Linked DNA regions of Homo sapiens. The protein of the gene in region 2 purifies or fractionates together with the protein of the main gene of each other region. This does not show direct contact. Each region holds a gene or a part of one and is shown on either strand. Other genes may lie near its edges.

The links.
Region 1: the proteins of GSTO2 (region 2) and WDR1 fractionate together in Homo sapiens (co-fractionation; one large-scale study listed by BioGRID). This does not show direct contact.

What each region holds. Positions count from the first base shown.
Region 1 is NC_000004.12:10,078,483-10,082,300, forward strand, and holds part of WDR1 (WD repeat-containing protein 1), read right to left. Parts: intron 2,963-3,818; coding exon 2,875-2,962; intron 520-2,874; coding exon 409-519; intron 211-408; exon of another isoform or gene 129-210; intron 1-128.
Region 2 is NC_000010.11:104,302,786-104,305,737, reverse strand, and holds the end of GSTO2 (glutathione S-transferase omega-2), read right to left. Parts: 3' UTR 788-2,952; downstream 1-787. UniProt on the Homo sapiens protein: Exhibits glutathione-dependent thiol transferase activity. Has high dehydroascorbate reductase activity and may contribute to the recycling of ascorbic acid. Participates in the biotransformation of inorganic arsenic and reduces monomethylarsonic acid (MMA).

The DNA.
Region 1 (3,818 bases), on a different chromosome or scaffold from region 2:
CACTCTTCCTTCAACCTGTGAGCCGAGCCCAGCCCCAGGGGATGCCATTCCTTGATTTCCTGACCTGCTACCCTCTTGCGCTCCCCTCCTGCCGCCACTCATGGGGCTGGCTCTGAGGCACAGCTGTGCCCTCCTCGGCACTCCCTCTACCTCACTGTCCACAGTCTTGTGGGCACCCGGGCAGTGAGGTGGGGGAAGTGCCGAGGAGGGGAGGGGAAGGCTCCAGCCCTGGGTGGCAGGAGATGGCGTGGCTGGGCCCCAGAGCAGGTCCCACGCCCCGACTGCCCCCATCCTTCCCCTGACCCCTCGCCTTCCCTGAGACAGCCCCGGTACTCACACAGCTCACACTGTCCCCAAATCACCCAGATACCAAGGACAGAGAGCACGGGGGAGAGGAAAGCGACTTACCACACCCCCAATTGCCACCGTGTCCCCGCCGGGGTGCACTGCCACAACTTCGGGCTCGTAGCCGGGGTTGTCGATGCTGAAGCACTTCCTCTGATCCTTCAGCAGGACAATCTGTGGCACACACAGGCAGCTGGTCAGGCGGTCCAGCCCTTCGGGACAAAACCCTCAGTGGTAGGAGGGGCGCGTCCCTGTCGGGGCTCACTGGAGCTGGGTTTGGCTCCATACCCAACCTCTTTGCAGGGCCACCTGGGGCTCTGAGCCACACCACCTGGACTCATGTCCCGTTTGACAGTTGCTCTAGCCAGTCAGGTGGGGCAGGAAACACAACTAACTGTGACCATTACTGTCATCACTACATTACTTCCAAGGCAGTCACCACAGCACCACCTCTTGGAAAGTCACTTGGCCTCGATGGGAATCAACGTTCAGGGTAAGAAAGGTACTAACAACAGTAAACAAAAACAGCGACAGCCCCTAGGCACGTGCCAGCGCTCTGCTGTGAGTGTTCCAGCCCCACAAGGCAGGGATCGGGTTCCCCGTTTCAGAGAAGAAAATGGGGTACGGTGCTTATGCTGCACGCCCAAGGCTCCAGTTCCCACAGGCTGAGCCGGGACTCGCCCAGAATCCAAGCCTCGGCACCCGCACTGGGCCTTTGCCTCTGGTACATGCAGCAGAGGCTCTGCAGCGGGGGCCTTCCTTCCATCTCCCTTCCTTGTCAATTCTTCCGGTTCTAACTTACTCAACTGCTCCCAGACAGTGGCCTTCATCTCTGAGTTTTGCCTTTATCCCAGTGTGCCCCTACCCAAGCCACCAGCTGTCATGAGGGAAGGCAGCCTCTGCCCCTACCGTCTGGGCTTCTGTTTCTGCGTGGATTGTGGGTGGATCGCGATGAATGGTAGCAGCACCCTGACTAAAACCTACTACTGAAGAGGCACCTCTGTCATCTGCCCGGCTCTGGAGGTGGCCTTACCTACTCACAGGTGAAGAATGAGGGCCTAAGCATTTGCCTGAAGCTTCGTCCGACATGAGACTTGAACCTGGTTGTTTCCTGATCTAAAATCCCAGGCCCCTCCTAGCACCCTCCTAACTCTTTGACTGGTGACAGGGAGCTCTGCAGAAAATTCTGACCCAGAGCAGGGGTTCCAGATGCCCTGGGAGGATCAGGTAACAGCAGATCACAGAGAAATGCCACATGAGGAGGTGCAGAGACCTGGAGCCTGTCCCCTGCACACCACAACCCTACCGGGGTCCTTTCTAACCTCCTGGGCAGCAGGCGCCAGCTGGGCCAGTCTGAACATCCTCTCAGCCTCAGGGGAAAGGGTGGCCTATGATGACCACAACTTTACAGATGAGGAAACCTGGGTCTGGAGACACAGGGCACGCTGCCCTAGGCCTCATCCCCTCACCCACAAAGCCCCATGTGCAGACCCCTTGGCTGGGAAGAGCCCTGCTGTGCAGAGATAGGCCACCTGCCAGCCTTCTAGAACTCCGCTTTGTAGCGTTTCCCCCAGGCCCCGAGGCGCTCCATGTGTGGATTCCCTTTGCACCTCCCCACCCCCACTGGCTGTCCAGGCTGTTTGCAATAATTACTTGGCAGGGATTTCTTATTATCTAGGACACAGAGAAATCCACTGTCCCTAACGCAATTAAGTTCACAAGGCAAAGGAGGGCCAGAGGGTGCTGAAAGCAGCTTTCTTTAGCAGGGCTCGCCACTCGTGCCAACAGGTGCCCCTTGACTTCCCCGGTCTACATGCCAGCAAGCCTAGGCCCGCCAACAGATAATATCTTCTGCAGGGCAGAATTCTGTATAAAGTGGGTCAGGCTTGGGTCTCAGGTGGCTTTGGTCCAGATATTCCAAAGGTGTGCAGGTGGCCCCACTGTCTGGGGTTAGAAGCCAGGCCGGGAAGTCAGGTGCCACCCTTCTGCATGTGGGAAAGTACCAAGCTGCTCTAGGCCTCAGCCTCCTCATCTGTAAGAGGAACCAAGATGGTGTAAGGAGACTTACATGTACTTCCTCATAATCACCTGGATCTGTGAGTGCTGGGGATGGGAAACTAAGGCTCAGAGAGGGTGAGGTAAATGCCGGAGGTCACACAGCTACAATGCAGCAGGGCTGGGATGTGAACAGGAGCAAAGGCAGGCCCACCCCACAGGGTATCTCATAGACTTTACAGGCTGACAGGCAGGCAGCGTGGTCTGAGGCTTAGAGACAAATCCCAGCTCTGCCCTCCGACCAGCTGCGGCCTTGGACAACCAATTTATCCATTCCGTGCCTCCATTTCTTCATCTGTACAACTGATGTGATGGTGGTGAGGATTAAATATGTGAGATCCCTTAGTGCAGTGCAAATGAGCACTCAACCAAAACACTGGCTAGAGCAACTGTCAAACGGGACATGAGTCAAATTCAGCAAGCAGGCACCACACAGCTGCAGGCTCCCACCCAAACACTAAGCCAGGTCCCTACCTGTCCAATGCACACGACCACGGCGTATCCCCCGGGGCCGACGGCTACGCACTTTGGCTGAACGTCCAGTTTCACAACTCCTTGTCCGCTGTTAGAGAGAAAGGAAGCACATTACTTCGACAATGCAGCAGCTCAGGGTAGGTATGCATACATATTTACTGTTAAACCACAGTTTTGCTCCTTAGAAGGCAATTCTATTGCCACCTATACTGGAGAGACTTGCTAAAATATGGGATGGTAGCGAAAAAACGATCCATGACTCTGGTGCAAAGAGATTATAAGTCATAATGGGGGCCCGGGGAGGGGTGGGGGGGGGGGAAGGAGGGGCGGGAGGCGGTGAAAGGCGTTGATTATGCTCCTATTTATCTGTGGTAAGCCCTCATTACACCCAGATGTGGCTTTTGTCCCCCTGTCTGTTGGCTAAAGACTGGAGTTTACTGAGCACAGACAGAATTGAGCTCTGCTCCCCAAAATGGATGGGTAACTTTTAAGAATCCGTTACCTTTAATGGGTGAAAATCATGTTATTTTTAGCCTTGGCCAATGCTATCAAAACTTGTTCTAGAAAGACTCATACACACAAACTTCTTGAAAACTGAGATAATCAAGGAAATTTCTGTGTCACTCGGCCAAGTGTGGCATCCCCAAAGGCTCTGCAGCAAGGTCACCAGGCCAAGGCTGGCTCTGTAAGGGCCTTGCCTTGGGTTATCTGGCCCAGGGAAGACCCTTTTATGGGACGTGTTAAGAGTGGGGTCACCACAGGGCAGTAGAAAGAGGACCAGGGCCCAGATGCCTGGGCTCTGGGGCCGCTTCTGCCACTCATCGGGAGGCCCAATTTACCTACAGATGCCCAGTCTGCCAGGCAGGCAGGGCCTGTGTTACCTACAAGGACGGCACACCTGCTAGGAGTTGCGTGCTGCACCCTGTGCCAGGCTCCCATCAACA
Region 2 (2,952 bases):
AGGGGGCTGTCTGCTAATGACAAAGTAGGCCAGAGACCCTTGCTGTCTGCAAGGGGATTCCTGGGCATGGCAGGAATCCTTGGGAGGAAATGGCAGGGCAGAGTATTGCACAGTTCTTGTCCCTGGAGCACATGTGTAACCATCCTGTCTATGCGCAGCATGGTACTGGTGTGCTTTAGTTTTCCATTCAGCATCCAAGCTGATTGGTAACTGGGCAGGCCTGCAGGCATTTCAAATCCCTCACATTTTAACCCTTGGAAAGAGATAACCTGCTCCAAGAGGAGACAAAGATTCTCTGCTTGACCAAACTTTAGTCAGGCTCCTGAACCTCCTCCTAGGTTCATCTGTGCGTGTCCTTGTAAAATTGTTTTAGCAAAGAACCCTGCTAAGTTAGTTTGGCAAAAGAACTCCCCCACCTCAGTATCAGATCATCCTTGATATCTGATCAAGTTCCTTGTCCTCCGCCAGCCCTCTGGTGATGTCTGATCATCCTGGCCTGTCTTCAGCAAGAATCCTGTTAGGTCAGTTTAGCTAGAATCCTCCTTATCCCTGACGTTTCCTCCGAGTGATTTTCAATCCACTGACCTCTGCTCTACTTCTGGGCTATAAATACCCACTTGTTCGTCTTGTACTCAGAGTTGAGCCCAATCTCCCTCCCCAACTGCAGAAGTCTCATTGCAGCGGCCCCGATACCTACCGTGATGGTTATGAGGAAGTCTTCCTTCACATGCTTTAAACAAGTGTCAGTGAATGATTTTTTTCTTTAACAGAGTAGCGAGATTCTGAGTATTCTTCAGAAACACAGGAGAGAAGATTTATTTTACATCATCAACATTGCAAGATTTCAGAATGCACAGTATTAAACTTGGCCTTGGGGTGAGAGGGAGGAGGACGGGGAGGGATAAAATTGCAGCTTTCAAGGGATCACAGGTTGAGATTAAACCTGCACACAGGAAACAACCAGAAAACAACTCCAAACCATGAATCAAGCCATGTGCAACGTAGGACATCTAGTTCCACAAAGTGATGGGGGGATGAGCACAGGGTTCAAGTCTGATCATTGGCAGAAGCCTAGTCATAATAGGGTTGCCTGCCATTCACTGAGTTTCACCCAGCTGGTACTAAGCCCTTGCATAGATGAGACCATCATTATTCAACAGCCCAATGAAATAGGTACTTAGCCGTCCCATTTTACAGATAAGAAACTGAGGCTAATAGAGGTGTAGCAACTTACTCAAGAAAGTTAAGTTGCAAAGTCGGAATTTGATCCCAGTGCTAACCTTGAAGCCCTGTTTGTAACCCCTATGGCACGCCACTTCTCTTTACATAAAGAAGAATTTTGATCTGAACTTTGCAAGAGAAAAGACTGGTTGGAAAAAAAAACAGAGGGCTGCTCTGAGGAAGAATAGTATGTAGAGGAAATGGCATTTTCAAAGGCTCAAGAGCGCTAACAGGCCAGATGAGAGAAAAATGTTTGAAAAGATCAAATGTTCAGCCTTCCAGGCACTCAAAGAAGAAGATAAATGAAAATGGGTCTCCCAGGTGGGCACAGTGTTTGGTGTGTGTGTGTGGTGGGGGATGGGAACTGGAGACTACTCATTGAGAACTGCACTGGGCTGGATATTTGGTTATTTGTGAAGACTTCAGAAAACAAACTAAGCTAGGCTGATATAAACCACAGGGCAGTCAAGCTTGCTTCTCAACTCAGAGTAACCCAGTCTCCCCTCCATCAAGGCCAATGACTCTGACAAAGGAAACATGGGTAAGGAGACCTGAAGGTGAGAAACCAAGAAACATAACACCTGCCCCTGCCACCCCTACCACCACCAAAGCTCCAAGAAACAATGTGGGAGCCACATGCAGGCAGTTTCTGCAGCACTGGAGGGATTGCTCTAGCTTGTACTTTATGATTTAGATTAAATCTACTTTAATACTCAGAGTCATTCTGTCCTCCTAGGCCTCTGAGTCTGTGATGGGAGGGGCTGCCACAAAGGTCTCTGAAATGCCTTCAAGGCCTTTTCCCCATTTTCTTGGCCATTAGCACTTGGCTCCTTTTTACTTATGCAAATTTCTGCAGCCTGCTTGAATTCCTTCCCTGAAAACGGGCTCTTCTTTTCTACCACATAGCTGGCTGCAAATTCTCCAAACTTTTACGCTCTGCTTCCCCTGTAAATATAAGTTCCAACTTAACATAATTTCTTTGCTCACAAATATGAGCATAGGTTGTTGAAAGCAGCCAGGGCGCATCTTGAATGCTTTGCTGCTTAGAAATTTTTTCTGCCAGATACCCTAAAATCATCACTCTCAAGTTCAAACTTCCACAGGTCCCTAGGCCAGGAGCACAATGCAGCCAAGTTCTTTGCTAAAGCATAACAAAAGTGACCTTTGCTCCAGTTCCCAGTAAGTTCCTCATTTCCATCACCTCCTCAGCCTGGCCTTCACTGTCCATATCACTACTGGCATTTTGGTCACAACCATACAACCAGTCTCTAGAAAATTCTAAACTTTCCCTAAAGAAAACAGGTTTACAAAAACTGCATGTTCTCACTTATAAGTGGGAGCTAAATCATGAGAACACATGGACATGTGGAGGGTAACAATACACACTGAGGCCTATCAGAGGGTGCAGGGTGGGAGGAGGGAGAGGATCAGGAAAAATAACTAATGGATACTAGACTTAATATCTAGGTGATGAAATAATCTGCATAACAAACCCCATGACGCATGTTTACCTATGGAACGAACCTGCACATCCTGCACATGTACCCCTGAACTTAAAATAAAAGTGTTTTTAAAAAGAGGTTTAATTGGCTCATGGTTCTGCAGGCTGTATGAGAAGTGTAGTAGATTCTGCTTCTGGAGAGCCCTCAGGAAGCTTCCTCTCATGGCAAAAAGCAAAGGGGGAGCGAGGCATCTCCCATGGTGGGAGCTGGCGCAAGAGGGGTCAGGGAG